2 linked regions of the Homo sapiens genome follow. The protein of the gene in region 1 interacts with the protein of each later gene in a biochemical or structural test. Each region holds a gene or a part of one and is shown in the gene's direction. Other genes may lie near its edges.

The links. Proteins that work in one complex are often made in the same cells at the same time.
Region 2: the proteins of SLX4 (region 1) and RTEL1 form a complex in vitro, tested with the Homo sapiens proteins (one study listed by BioGRID).

The regions. Positions count from the first base shown.
Region 1 is NC_000016.10:3,601,601-3,608,622, reverse strand, and holds part of SLX4 (structure-specific endonuclease subunit SLX4), read left to right. Parts: coding exon 1-193; intron 194-1,924; coding exon 1,925-2,149; intron 2,150-6,315; coding exon 6,316-6,505; intron 6,506-7,022. UniProt on the Homo sapiens protein: Regulatory subunit that interacts with and increases the activity of different structure-specific endonucleases.
Region 2 is NC_000020.11:63,654,272-63,661,318, forward strand, and holds the start of RTEL1 (regulator of telomere elongation helicase 1), read left to right. Parts: upstream 1-4,040; 5' UTR 4,041-4,195; intron 4,196-4,961; 5' UTR 4,962-5,131; coding exon 5,132-5,233; intron 5,234-7,026; coding exon 7,027-7,047. UniProt on the Homo sapiens protein: A probable ATP-dependent DNA helicase implicated in telomere-length regulation, DNA repair and the maintenance of genomic stability. Acts as an anti-recombinase to counteract toxic recombination and limit crossover during meiosis.

The DNA.
Region 1 (7,022 bases):
AGCCAGGCCCCTAGGACTAAAAAGCAAAGGGTAACCAAATGGCAAGCAAGTGAACCGGCCCACTCTGTGAATGGGGAGGGGGGTGTGCTTGCCTCTGCTCCAGATCCACCTGTGCTCCGGGAAACAGCACAAAACACCCAGACGGGTAACCAGCAAGAACCATCGCCAAACCTTTCCAGAGAGAAAACCAGAGGTAATTTGTACTCTTTTAAACCAGGGGCTGGAAAACTTCCTGGAAAGGGCCAGATCGTAAATATTTTGGCTTTGTAGGCCACACAGACTCTGTCACAACTACTCAACTCTGCTGTCATAGTGAGAAAGCAGGCGTGGACAATATGTAAATGAACAGGCATGGCCATATGCCAGTAAAACTTTATTTACAAAAACAGGCAGCCAGCCACATGACCGTAGTTTGCTAACTTTTGGTTTGTTTTTATTTTTTAATTTTTAAGCTTAAAAAAAAATTTAGAGCTGGAGGTCTCACTATGTTGCCCAGGCTGGTCTTGAACTCCTGGACTCAAGCAATCCTCGTGCCTCAGCCTCTCAGAGTGCTGGGATTACAGGCGTAAGCCACTGCGCCCGGCTGACTCCTGGTTTAAACAACAGTCAAGAAAAACATAACCCGTGTGAATTTTTCACATGATTGTGTTTGGAGTCCTCTGCTCTTTCAGAATTTCCTATGAAATTCTGTTATATGATTGACATGAGTTACACAAACAACACAATAATGCTGCTTCTCTTGTTTTCTTGAATTTATTCCAAAGTGGGTAAGTTGGACTGGGCCAGCCAATTTGGATAGGCTGCTGAGAGGGCCGCATGAGGACTCTGTGTGGGCTCAAGTCCCAGGAGAATCTTCAGGTTCTTTCTTTCTCTCTCTGAAGACCTTTTAATCTTTTCCTTTGTTATTGTTATTGATTTATTTACTTACTTAGTTTTTAGAGACAGGATCTTGGTCTCTCACCCAGGCTGGAGTGCAGTGGTGCTATCATAGCTTACTGCAGCCTTGACCTCCCAGGTTCAAGCAGTCCTCCCTGCCTCAGCCTCCCGAGTAGCTGGGACCACAGGCACCCACCACCGTGCCTGGATAATTTTTTAACTGTTTAAAGCAGTTTTCTTGCCCTGCTGCCCTTGGTATACTGAGCTATATGCTTACTACACATTCTTCATGCAAAACTGAAAACTACCCTTGCATATATAATACACCATGGGCTCTCTGAGCTCCTGAGTTCTGTTTCTAAATTTCCTTTGCCCTCACTTCCTGATCTTAATAACCTCTCAGTAGAGTGGTGGTAGAGTCTCAGGTCGCATAGACTACTGGAAGGCATCAGCAGTGTTGCCTCACCAACTTTACTGGTCTCTCGTGCTCTTTGCCAGTCGGATGAAATCTATGCATGGTTCCCCCAAAACACGTATCCATGCGCGTATCTGCAAAACTGGCACACAACTTCATGGGGTTCATGGATCCCCACTGAAGATCATCCGTGGATCCCAAGTTAAAGAAGAACTGATCTAGGACATAAACCTTTGTCATTAATATTTCTTTAATAATAGCTTTATTGGGGTATAATTGATATTCCATAAAATTCACCATTTAAAAGGGTATGGTTCAGTGGTTTTTAGTATATTCACAGACTTGTCCAACCACCACCACTACCTAACGTTAGAACAGTTTTATCATCCTAAAAATAAACCCCATGCTCATTAGCAGTCACATCCCATTCCCCTCCTGTTATTGATATTTATGTCTATATTGCCATAAACAAAGAGGTTACCAACAAGCAACCAGTCCTCTTCACATTTGTGAGTCAAACCTAAACTAGTTGATAAAGGACTCTTGAAACTTGCGTCTAACCTGTATCTGGTAGAAAAGTCTTTTATTTCTCCAGCTACAACAGATGGTTGTGAATATTTTCCTCCTTGCCAGAGAATGTGCCCAACAGCGACTCCCAGCCTCCTCCTTCCTGTTTGACAACAGCAGTGCCAAGTCCCTCCAAACCCCGCACAGCACAATTGGTCCTACAGCGAATGCAGCAGTTCAAGAGAGCAGACCCCGAGCGTTTGAGACACGCTTCAGAAGAGTGCTCCCTCGAGGCTGCGCGGGAAGAAAATGTCCCAAAGGATCCTCAAGAGGAGATGATGGCGGGGAATGGTATGATGAGTGTGTTTCTGTCTTCCACACAGAGATAAGTTAATACAACTCTGAGGAAGGGAGGCGGGAAGGAATCAGCATTTGTTGAGTTTCTTCTGTGGATAGGCTCTCTGCTTGATGTTTTACCTTTGCCACTTCACTGGATCCAGCCAGAGAATGAAGAGTCTCTGGGATCATTTCCCACCTAGCTTCCTTGATAAGGTACCGTTTTGTTTTTTTTTCTGAGACAGAGCCTTGCTCTGTCACCCAGGCTGGAGTGCAGTGACATGATCTCAGCTCACTGCAACCTCCGCCTCCCAGGTTCAAGCAATTATCTTGCCCCAGCCAGTGGGATTACAGACGTGTGCCACCACACCTGGCCAATTTTTGTATTTTTAGTAGAGACAGGGTTTCGCCAAGTTGGCCAGGCTGGTCTCGAACTCCTGACCTCAAGTGATCTGCCTACCTCAGCTCCCCAAAGTGCTGGGATTACAGGCGTGAACCATTGCACCTGGCCCTCTTCCTTTTTTTTTTTTTTTTTTTTTTTTGAGATGGAGTCTCGCTCCGTCACCCAGGCTGGAGTGCAGTGGCACGATATTAGCTCACTGCAAGCTCCACCTCCCAGGTTCACGCCATTCTCCTGCCTCAGCCTCCCGAGTAGCTGGGACTACAGGCTCCCACCACCACGCCTGGCTAATTTTTTGTATTTTTAGTAGAGACAAGGTTTCACCTTGTTAGCCAGGATGGTCTCGATCTCCTGACCTCGTGATCCACCCGCCTTGGCCTCCCAAAGTGCTGGGATTACAGGCGTGAGCCACTGTGCCTGGCCTCCTTTTTTTAAAAATTATGACTTTTTATTATGAAAGCTTTCCCTTTCAGTTTTTTCCTTTTAAAAAGATAACCCTCAGTATTCACAAAGAACTCTTCCTTTCAGAAAAGGTTTTTTTGTTGTTGTTGTTTTAATTACAATGAAGCCAGGCATGATGGCTCATGCCTATAATCCCAAAACTTTGGGAGGCCAAGGCAGGAGGACTACTTGAGGTCACAAGTTCGAGACCAGCCTGGACAACATAGTGAGACCCCCATCTCTACAAAAAAATTTTAGGGGCCAGGCGTGGTGGCTCACGCCTGTAATGCCAGCACTTTGGGAGGCCGAGGTGCGCAGATCACAAGGTCAGGAGATTGAGACCATCCTGGCTAACACAGTGAAACCCCATCTCTATGAAAAATACAAAAAATTAGCAAGGTATGGTGGTGGGTGCCTGTAGTCCCAGCTACTCGGGAGGCTGAGGCAGGAGAATGGCGTGAACCTGGGAGACAGAGCTTGCAGTGAGCCGAGATTGCACCACTGCACTCCAGCCTGGGCAACAGAGCAAGACTCTGACTCAAAAAAAAATTTTTTTTTAATTAGCTGGGCATGATGGTGCACAACTGTAGTCCCAGCTACTCGGGAGGCTGAGGTGGGAGGATTGCTTGAGCCCAGGACGTTGAGCTGCAGTGAGCTGTGATTGCATCATTGCACTCCAGGGCAACAGAGTGAGACCCTGTCTCAAAAAAAAAAAAAAAAAAATTACAATGAATCCCCTAATCCCCTATACCTCAATCTAGATTTAACAAATGTTAACATTTGGCCATTTGTTTATGTCTTTATAAATATACATTTTTTTTTTTTTTTGAGATGGAGTCTTGGTCTGTCTCCCAGGTTGGGGTGCAGTGGCGCAATCTCGGCTCACTGCAAACTCCACCTCCTGGGTTCAAGCCATTCTCCTGCCTCAGCTTCCAGGAAGCTGGGACTACAGGCATGCACCACCACGTCCAGCTAATTTTTGTATTTTTAGTAGAGTTGGGGTTTCACCATGCCGGCCAGGCTGTTCTGGAACTCCTGACCTTGTGATCTGTCCACCTCAGTCTCCCAAAGTGCTGGGATTACAGACGTGAGCCACCGTGCCTAGCCAAGCGTACATATTTTTCTTCCATATTATCTGAAGGTAAATTATAGACATTAGGATCCTTTACCCCTAGATTCTGCTGCATAACCACAATACCATTAGCACGCTTAATTCCATAATAGTGCCTGGCGTCCAGTTCAAACTCAAATTTCCCTGGTTGTCTCAAGGTTATTTTTTGTAGCTGGTTTCTTTTTTTTCTGAACAAGGATTCAGTAAGTTCACACACTGCATATTGCTGTAGCTCAGCAGTATCCTAAGGTCTAGATTCTAGAATAGTCCCCCATTTCCTTTTGTTTTCCATGACACTGACTTTTTTTTTTTTTTTTTTTGACAGAGGCTTGGCTAGAGTGCAGTGGCACAATCTCGGTTCACTGCAACCTCTGCCTCCCAGGTTCAAGCTATTCTCGTGCCTCGGCCTCCTGAGTAGCTGGGATTACAAGCACCCACCACCACACCCGGCTAATTTTTTTGTATTTTTACTAGAAATGGGGTTTCACCATGTTGCCCAGGCTGGTCTTGAACTCCTGAGCTCAGGGGATCTGCCCTCCTCAGCCTCCCAAAGTGCTAGGATTACAGGTGTGAACCACCACACCCAGCCCTATGACACTGAGTTTTTGAAGAGGCTAGGCTAATTGTATTATAAGATTTCCCACTTTCTGGATTTATTTCTTTATGGGATCGTTAACTCCTTCCTCTAACCATTGGGTTGCCCCACTCTGAGTAGATTAGAGGCTCATTGGCTGCAGGTGAGACAGGGTGGCGACAGTGCCCCATAGCTGCTGTGTACTTGGTGTGGCACCGGCCCAATAAGCGTAATAATGCCAGGTGCTCCTGTTCTCCATCCCCAAAACAATATGGATTCTCATCTCTGATGAAAATATACAAAAGGAAAAGAAATAGGAAGAAACCATTATCGGCAGACCTACAGCTAATAAGTATGCAGGATCTTGGCATTGCATTGCAGATTTCACTGCAGTAGCACGGAGGAGTCTCAGGCCACCCCAGGGTCCACAGCAGGCAGTGATTTGATGTCCTGCCGAGGCATCAGTCCTGGACGCACATGTGAGTTGCAGAGGAGGCACCCAGCTGGTGTGAGCTCCGCCCCTGCCCAGCATTTGACTCAGTTCTCTCTGTATCTTCACATCACACCCAGCAAGTGCTCAGAAAGAGATAAACCATTTGTTTGTTAAGAAACCAAACCAGGCTGGACGCGGTGGCTCACGCCTGTAATCCCAGCACTTTGGGGAGGCCAAGGCGGGCAGATCACCTGAGGTCAGGAATTCAGGACCACCCTGGCCAACATGGTGAAGCCCTGTCTCTACTAAAAATTAGCCAGGTGTGGTGGGCACCTGTAATCCCAGCTACTCAGGAGGCTGAGGCAGGAGAATCGCTTGGACCCGGGAGGCAGAGGTTGCAGTGAGCTGAGATCGCGTCGTTGCACTCCAGCCTGGCGACAGAGTGTGAGACTCCATCTCAAAAACAAACAAACAAACAAAACAGGGCACCAAAATGAAGGTGTGCTGTTTTGCTGGCCTCAGTGGCAGGCACTGGTAGGCCACAGCCATGAAGAACTTGGGGATTTATGAGGCGTTCAGGGCATATCCCTTGTGAGTGACAGGGGTCTGCTCCAGCAATATCAGATGGGCCACCCTGGGAGCCATCTCAAGACCAGAATCAGTCCATTCTTGAGTCTGATGCTAAGTAAGAGATGCTGCCTTTTAAACGCCAAAGGCATTTCACTCTGCCCTGGTTTTATCATGGGCAGTAAAAGGTCAGCAGGAAAGGGTGAGTTTTGAAGAGAACATCTAGCTTTGTTGGAATATGAGCCTTGTGAACTTGCAATGCCCGAGGTAGCCAACTTCAGCAGAAGTGGGAAAGTTTAGGTCCTTGCTACTCAGAGTGGTCCTGTGCTGCCAGCATCGCCAAGCCTGGAGGCTGCTAGAAATGCGGAGAGTCTCAGGCTGCACCTGGACCCCTTGAATTTGAATCTGAGTGTCGACAAGCTTCCCAGGTAATGCATATCCATGTTAAAGTTGGAGACGGCTGTTCCCGGAGTGCTGATTAGTGCCCAGTCTCACTGGACAGTGTCCAAGTCACCAGCCTGCAGAGTGGAGCTGGGTTCTGGTTTCTTTGCGTTCCACCTGCTCCCCATGGTCTGCAGGAGCTGACAGAGCAGAGGTCTGAGGGTGAGCTTGTCTTTGGAGTTTATTCTCACGGATCTTTGGTGCTTCTCCACAGTGTATGGGCTTGGGCCCCCTGCCCCAGAGAGCGACGCTGCGGTGGCCTTGACCCTGCAGCAGGAGTTTGCACGGGTAGGAGCATCGGCACATGATGATAGCCTGGAGGAAAAGGGTTTGTTCTTCTGCCAGATTTGTCAAAAGAACCTCTCAGCCATGAACGTGACCCGAAGGGAACAGCATGTGAACAGGTGGGGGCAGCTTGGGCCGTCGCCTCTCCCGTGTATGTGACCAGAATCCCCAAGCACCCCAGGGCTGGAGTGCGGATCTCCACACCTTACCATGACAACAGCACCTCAGCTTTGTTGTCAACCTACCCCTTTTTAAAAATAACTTCGTTGAGATACAATTCACAGAACATATAGTTCACCCATTTAAACTGAACAAATCACTACTTTTGGGATATTCACACAGTTGGGCAACTGTCACCACAATCACTTCTGGATTATTTTCATCACCCCCAAAAGAATCCCCACACCCATTGGCAGCCACTCCCTATTGCCCCTCTCTCCCCTGACAACCACTAATCAACATTCTGTCTGGATGGATTTGCCGATTCTGAAATTGCACAGTTGTCCTTTTGTGTCTGCCTTCTTTGACTTAATATGTTGTTTTTGAGGTTCATCCATGTTGTAGCATGGAGCAGGCTTCATTCCTTTTTATGGCTGAGCAGTATCTCATTGTATGGCTAGACTGTGTTTTTCCCAT
Region 2 (7,047 bases), on another chromosome or scaffold:
GGGCAACCTATCCTGCCTCCCCCTCTCCTCATAACTCCCAAAGGGAAAGCCTGGTAGGCAAACGGAGCGTCTTTGCCATTGCAGGGATGAAGCCACCGAGGCAGGGAGAAAAGTGCTTTGCCCTACAAGCAACTAAGTCATAGGGCCAGGAGCAAAACCCTGAAAACCTCAGGAGACTTGCAGAGCCATGAGGCTGGCTCAGCAACACAAAAGCCAGGGGCAAGCCTCAGCTCTAGCAGTGCGGTGGGAGCACCCAAGGCCAGTCACATCCTAGGGTGGCCTGGAGAGTCCTGACCCCTGACGTGCAAGCCGGCATCATCCCCGGGACTGTGAGTCTGGTGGGGGTGATGCCCAGGAATGTGACATTGTGTGGCCCAGAGGTACCCTTAAGACTGGAGGATCACCAGGCGGGCCCTGACCTCATCACAGGAGCCCTTTAAAAGCAGTTTCCTTTGCCTGGTTGAAGAAATCGGAGGGATCAAACCAAAGAAGGTTTTCTGTTGTTGAGATGAGGGGGCCACGTGGCAAGGATCTGAGAACTGCTCCCAGCCAACAGCCAGCAAGACAACAAGACCTTAACTGCAAGGAAGTGAGTTCTGCCAACAAGAAGAGAATGGGCTTGGAGGCAGGTTTGACCCCAGGGCCTCCACACAAGAACTGAGCCCAACTGCCCACTTGGTTTCAGCCTTGGGTTACTAAGAATTAGGAGGTAATGAATGAGAGTTGTTTTAAGCTGTTGGTTTTGTGGTGATTTGCTATGAAGCCATATCAAACTAATATACACACAGAGGTGTTGGCCCCTGGGCCATTCCTAGGAAGCCAGCTCTGCGAAGGAGGAAGAAGGGCAGAGAGGCACACAGAGCTGCCCACCACAGCAGCTGTGTCCTCCCTGTTGGCCACCACAGTAGCAGTTGGGGATGGTCAGCATCCTTCAGGCAGACTCCAGCCCCGGGTGCTGGAGCTCAGGTGCTAGGGATCAAGAGAAGTAGCCCTCTCTGGGACCTCCAGAGTCTTCTCATGTGGGTGGGGTAGGACCCACCCAGTCAGGCTCAGAGCACCGCAATGCCTCACACTCATTGTGACTCTGGCCAGGCCCTCTCTGAGCCTCTGTGTCCTCATCTGGAGCACAGGGACCAGGTGTGTGGAAGCCCGTGGCATAGTGCCAGGAACACAGTAGATGTGCACAGTGTGCACTAGCAGGAACACACAACAGGGGTACTGACTGTCAGCACCTAGGCAGGCACACGCAATGGGGTACTGACTGTCAGCCATACTGACTGTCAGCGTGCTAGCAGGCATACACAACAGCTGTACTGACAGCACACTAGCAGGCACATGCCATAGGTGTACTGACTCTCAGTGCACTGGCAGGCACACGCAATAGGAGTAATGACAGCATGCTGGCAGGCACACAATAGCTGTACTGACTGTTTGCCCCAATATAGTGCCAGGTCTTGGAGCAGATTTTGACTTCTCACCAAGATCAAATGCAGAAAGTGCACGAGCATTTCAAAGATGTTTTTCACATGCACATTAGTGCTAGTTAAAAAAATGTTTTGACTGGGTGCAGTGGCTCACAACTGTAATCCCAACACTTTGGGGGGCCGAGGTGGGCAGATCACCTGAGGTCAGGAGTTTGAGACCAGCCTGGCCAACATGGTGAAACCCCATCTACCCTAAAAATACAAAAATTAGCCAGGTGTGGTGGCAGGTGCCTGTAATCTCAGCTACTTTGGAGGCTGAAGCAGGAGAATCACTTGAATCCAGGAGGCAGAGGTTGCAGTGAGCCGAGATCCCACCACTGCACTCCAGCCTGGGCAACAATATCAAGACTCCACCTCAAAAAAAAAAATGTTTTTCATAAAGTGTGACTTTTATCAGACCTCTGCATTCTTGAAATTAACTCTGGCTTGGCTGGGCGTGGTGGCCCACACCTGTAATCTTAACACTTTGGGAGGCTGAGGTGGGCAGATCACGAGGTCAGGAGTTCAAGACCAGCCTGACCAACATGATGAAACCCCATCTCTACTAAAAATACAAAAATTAGCCGGGCGTGGTGGCATGCACCTGTAATCCCAGCTACTCAGGAGGCTGAGGCAGGAGAATCGCTTGAACCCAGGAGGTGGAGGTTGCAGGGAGCCGAGATCGCACCACTCTATTCCAGCCTGGGCGACAGAGCAAGACTCTGTCTCAAAAAAAAAAAAGAAAGAAAGAAATTAACTCTGGCTCCTAGAAGGAGCCCTATATCTCAGCAGGACACTCAGTCATTCAACAGACATCTGTCAAGCACCTGCTGTATGCTGGAGCTGTGGGTACGTCAGCAATTAGAGGAAGAGGGCAGGGGTACAGGAGTTCCTGACCACCCCAGGCCAGCACGCTCCTATAGCAGCTGGCAAGGAGCAGATGACTCAGACTTCAGCTCAGTCCACAGGACAGCCTTTTCTGGCCACTGCTCTCAGGAGATGAGATGTGTGGCTGCAAAAGGTAAACTCCTGGCTCCTGAGCAGGCTCTGGGCAATCTGCTCAACGCTCTGTGCCTCACTTTCTCACCCAGAAAGTGTGGACAATGAGAGGACTTATCTGGCTGGGCGCGGTGGCTCACGCCTGTAATCCCAGCACTTTGGGAGGCCGAGGCGGGTGGATCACCTGAGGTCAGGAGTTCAAGACCTGCCTGGCCAACACGGTCAAACTCCATCTCTACTAAAAATATAAAAAATTAGCCGGGCTTAGTGGTGCACACCTGTAATCCCAGCTACTTGAGAGGCTGAGGCAGGAGAATCACTTGAACCCAGGAGGTGGAGGTTGCAGTGAGCCAAGATTGTGCCACTGCACTCCAGCCTGGGCAAAAAGCCAAAACTCTGTCTCAAAGAAAAAAGAATCATGGCAGAAGGTGAAGTCTATGTTAGTCCCAGTTCCCAGGTCGTACATGGCGGCAGGAGAAAGAGAGAGAGAAGGGGAAACTGCCACTTTTAAACCATCGGGTCTCCTGAGCACTCACTGTCAGAACAGCCTGGAGGAAACTGACCGCATGATCCAACCACCTCCCTCCAGGTCCCTCCCTCCACACGTGGGGATTACAATTCGAGGTGAGACTTGGGTGGAGACACAGAGCCGAACCATATCAGCATGTATGGGGGGCACTGAAACTTGTGCTTGGTGCCCATTCATTCAACGAGTGTGTGTGGCTGGTCTCCTCATCTTCAACTCCCTGCCGAGTCTCAGATAGGCAGCCTGCAGTTCCTTCACCACAACAGGCACATGGGGCTGGGTGCCAGTGAGTGCTGGGGCTTCTCCGAGCACTATCTCACACCCAGGAGCGTGGGCACGCATGGCATTCGCATGTGCCGTCAGTGGACATTAAACACAGCCATGAAGAAGCCACGAAGAAGTGCTGCCTGCCGGCCGTGCGCGGTCACGCAGCGCCAACTCCCTCCTGGGGCCTTCTGGGGCCTTCTGGGGCATGGGAGCTGGGGCCGCCTGAGACAAACATCCGTGACGCTGGGCTGACCCCACAGAACGGTGCGGGCCTCGCTCTTGGAGTCAGCCCTGCTGCCAGCCAGTGCCGGGTGCTGGGGACTCAGGGAGGCCCGCCGGGACCACTGCGGGACAGTGAGCCGAGCAGAAGCTGGAACGCAGGAGAGGAAGGAGAGGGGGCGGTCAGGGCTCTCAGGAGCCGGGTCCTGGGCAAGGCGCAGCCGTTTTCAAATTTTCAGGAAAGCGGTCGGCTCACACTCGAGCAGTAAAAAGATGCCTCTGGGGAGGAGGCCCGTGCAGCTCTCCGGGCAATGGTGGTGGCTCGGCCTAGAGAGGCGGTAGTGGAACGCAGACCCTGGTGGGGGAATGACATCAAGGGAGGAGACGGGCGGGACCCCAGATTTCTGCCTGTGGGCGATGGAAGTGAGGTTCACTGGCCAGCGGAGCCGGACACAGAACGCGCAAAACGCCGTGTAGGCCTGGAGGAGCCGAAGAGCAGGCGGACCCCCTCCGCGGGGGAACAGTTTCCGCCGGGAGCACAAAGCAACGGACCGGAAGTGGGGGGCGGAAGTGCAGTGGGCTCAGCGCCGACTGCGCGCCTCTGCCCGCGAAAACTCTGAGCTGGCTGACAGCTGGGGACGGGTGGCGGCCCTCGACTGGAGTCGGTTGAGTTCCTGAGGGACCCCGGTTCTGGAAGGTTCGCCGCGGAGACAAGTGAGCAGTGAGTCGCAGTGACCCTACAAGTGGTTCTTTTACCCGAGCGGCTCGTAGGCGCGTTGCGGTTTTTCGAAACTACAGCTCCCGGCAGGCCCCAAGCCGCCCTCGGGGCCGCGGGTCGGCGGATTGGCCGCGCTGCATTTTGGGACCTGTAGTTTCCTGCGCTCGTGGCGCTGGCGCCGCGGCGTTGGCTGAGCCCTTGACCGGGGCTGGAGGGAAGGGCCGACATTCAGTGTGTCCGCGTCTGTTCTGTTAGTCCCAGTTCCCGGGCGGGATTGAGGCTTAGAGAAGTTGAGTGATTTGCTGAGGGCTGCACGGGTTGGCATCCCGGCATGCTCTTTCGCTACTTTGGCTGCATCTGGTTGCCCACCCGGGCGGATGGGGAATGGACTCCAGCCAGCCAGGAGGGCAGAGGGCTGGAGAGGCAGGGCCGGAGGTTCAGACCCTCCGCTCTGACGTTGCGCCTGGTGAGGCCGGGAGGGGTGCCGCTTGCCTCTTCAGCCCTCACGCTCTTGTGGAAGTCGCGGAATTACTGCAGGCGGAACTTGCAGCACTGTGGGCGTCTTTTCCAGAGAAGGACGGAGTTGTGGGGCGGGAGGATAAGGCAAGGCCCAGCCACTTCGCATCTTCGCCCCGCCAGCTCCTCGAGATGGGATATACCAGGGTTGCTCTCCAACCCTCTCCGCAGGAGGGACTGATGGAAACGCCTGGGAAAGTAGCCCGGTACCCACAAAGGCTGTCTACAAACAGAGTCTTACTGTCTTTCCCAGGTCTGTGCCATAGGGATTCTCGAAGAGAACAGCGTTGTGTCCCAGTGCACATGCTCGCATCGCTTACCAGGAGTGCCCGAGACCCTAAGATGTTCGGAGTGGTTTTTTCGCACAGACCCGAATAGCCTGCCCCTCAGCCACGCTCTGTGCCCTTCTGAGAACAGGCTGATATGCCCAAGATAGTCCTGAATGGTGTGACCGTAGACTTCCCTTTCCAGCCCTACAAATGCCAACAGGAGTACATGACCAAGGTCCTGGAATGTCTGCAGCAGGTAGAGCACAGGCCCCGAGGAAAGGACTGCGGGTGGGTGGAGCTTCAGCCAGGACGGGGTGTGCTTCCCTCTCCCGGCCCATTCCAGCCAGGCCCCTCCGGGCCAGAGGCAGCGTCTGTCATAAAAAGGGCTGGTGTTCCAGGTGGGGTCAGAGAGAGGATTGACAAGTAAAAACGATCGTCCTTTGAAGGGGGCCGGCCCCTCCACACCTGTGGGTATTTCTCATCAGGCGGGACGAGAGACTGAGAAAATGAATAAGACACAGAGACAAAGTATAGAGAGAAAAGTGGGCCCAGGGGACCGGCGCTCAGCATACAGAGGACCTGCACCGGCACCAGTCTCTGAGTTTCCTCAGTATTCATTAATTACTATTTTCACTATCTCAGCAAGAGGAATGCGGCAGGACAGCAAGGTGATAGTGGGGAGAAGGTCAGCAAGAAAACGTGAGCAAAGGAATCTGGGTCACAAATAAGTTCAAGGGAAGGTACTATGCCTGGATGTGCACGTAGGCTAGTTTTATGCTTTTCTCCACCCAAACATCTCGGTGGAGTAAAGAGTAACAGAGCAGCATTGCTGCCAATATGTCTCGCCTCCTGCCACAGGGCGGCTTTTCTCCTATCTCAGAATTGAACAAATGTACAATCGGGTTTTATACCGAAACATTCAGTTCCCAGGGGCAGGCAGGAGACAGTGGCCTTCCTCTATCTCGACTGCAAGAGGCTTTCCTCTTTTACTAATCCTCAGCACAGACCCTTCACGGGTGTTGGGCTGGGGGACTGTCAGGTCTTTCCCATCCCACGAGGCCATATTTCAGACTATCACATGGAGAGAAACCTTGGGCAATACCCGGCTTTCCAGGGCAGAGGTCCCTGCGGCTTTCCGCAGTGCATCGTGCCCCTGGTTTATCGAGACTGGAGAATGGCGATGACTTTTACCAAGCATACTGCCTGTAAACATATTGTTAACAAGGCACGTTCTGCACAGCTCTAGATCCCTTAAACCTTGATTCCATACAACACATGTTTCTGTGAGCTCAAGGCTGGGGCAAAGTTACAGATTAACAGCATCTTAGGGCAAAGCAATTGTTCAGGGTACAGGTCAAAATGGAGTGTGTTATGTCTTCCCTTTCTACATAGACACAGTAACAGTCTGATCTCTCTTTTCCCTACAGTCCTTGAGGGTGACAGACTTAGGAGTGCCTTGGGGGCCTCTCTGAGGAGCAGCTGATATTCACGGGTCAGGAGGAAGCATTTCCATTAGAGGGGCAGCCGGTGGCCAGCCTCACTTGGAAGGTCTTTGAACCTCGGGGGTGCAGGGAGGTGGCAGTGGTGCAGGTTGCCTTCTCCTGGGTTCCTTGAGGTGCCCTCTTGTACCCGGCTCACACCCTTCCCCTCCCCGAGTTTCCTGCTCAGGTTCCCGTCTGAGAGCTTGTATGTAGGACGTCAGATAGGACAGCATAAATGTTTGGATCCAGAAACGCAGAACAGTTTCCTATTTTGAGACTTGACACCTAATTAGTCATCTTACTATTTAAGCTGAAAAATAGTGTCGTGTTTTGGGTAACGTTCTGCAAATCGTTTGCTAATGGCGGCTGAGTTGCTTCACGCCCTTTAGGGCAAGAGTGGGACTTGCCTGTGGACTTCTCCGCGGTCCCACAGGGCTCTCGCCACCTGGCAGTGGCCTCTGCATCTGCAAAGAGCTGCCCGCTGGCTGCCGAAGCTTGTCTCAGGGCAGCTTGTGTGGCCTCGCCTCTTCCTGGCTTCCCCGTAACCCTTGCTCCGAACTCCGTTCAGAAGGTGAATGGCATCCTGGAG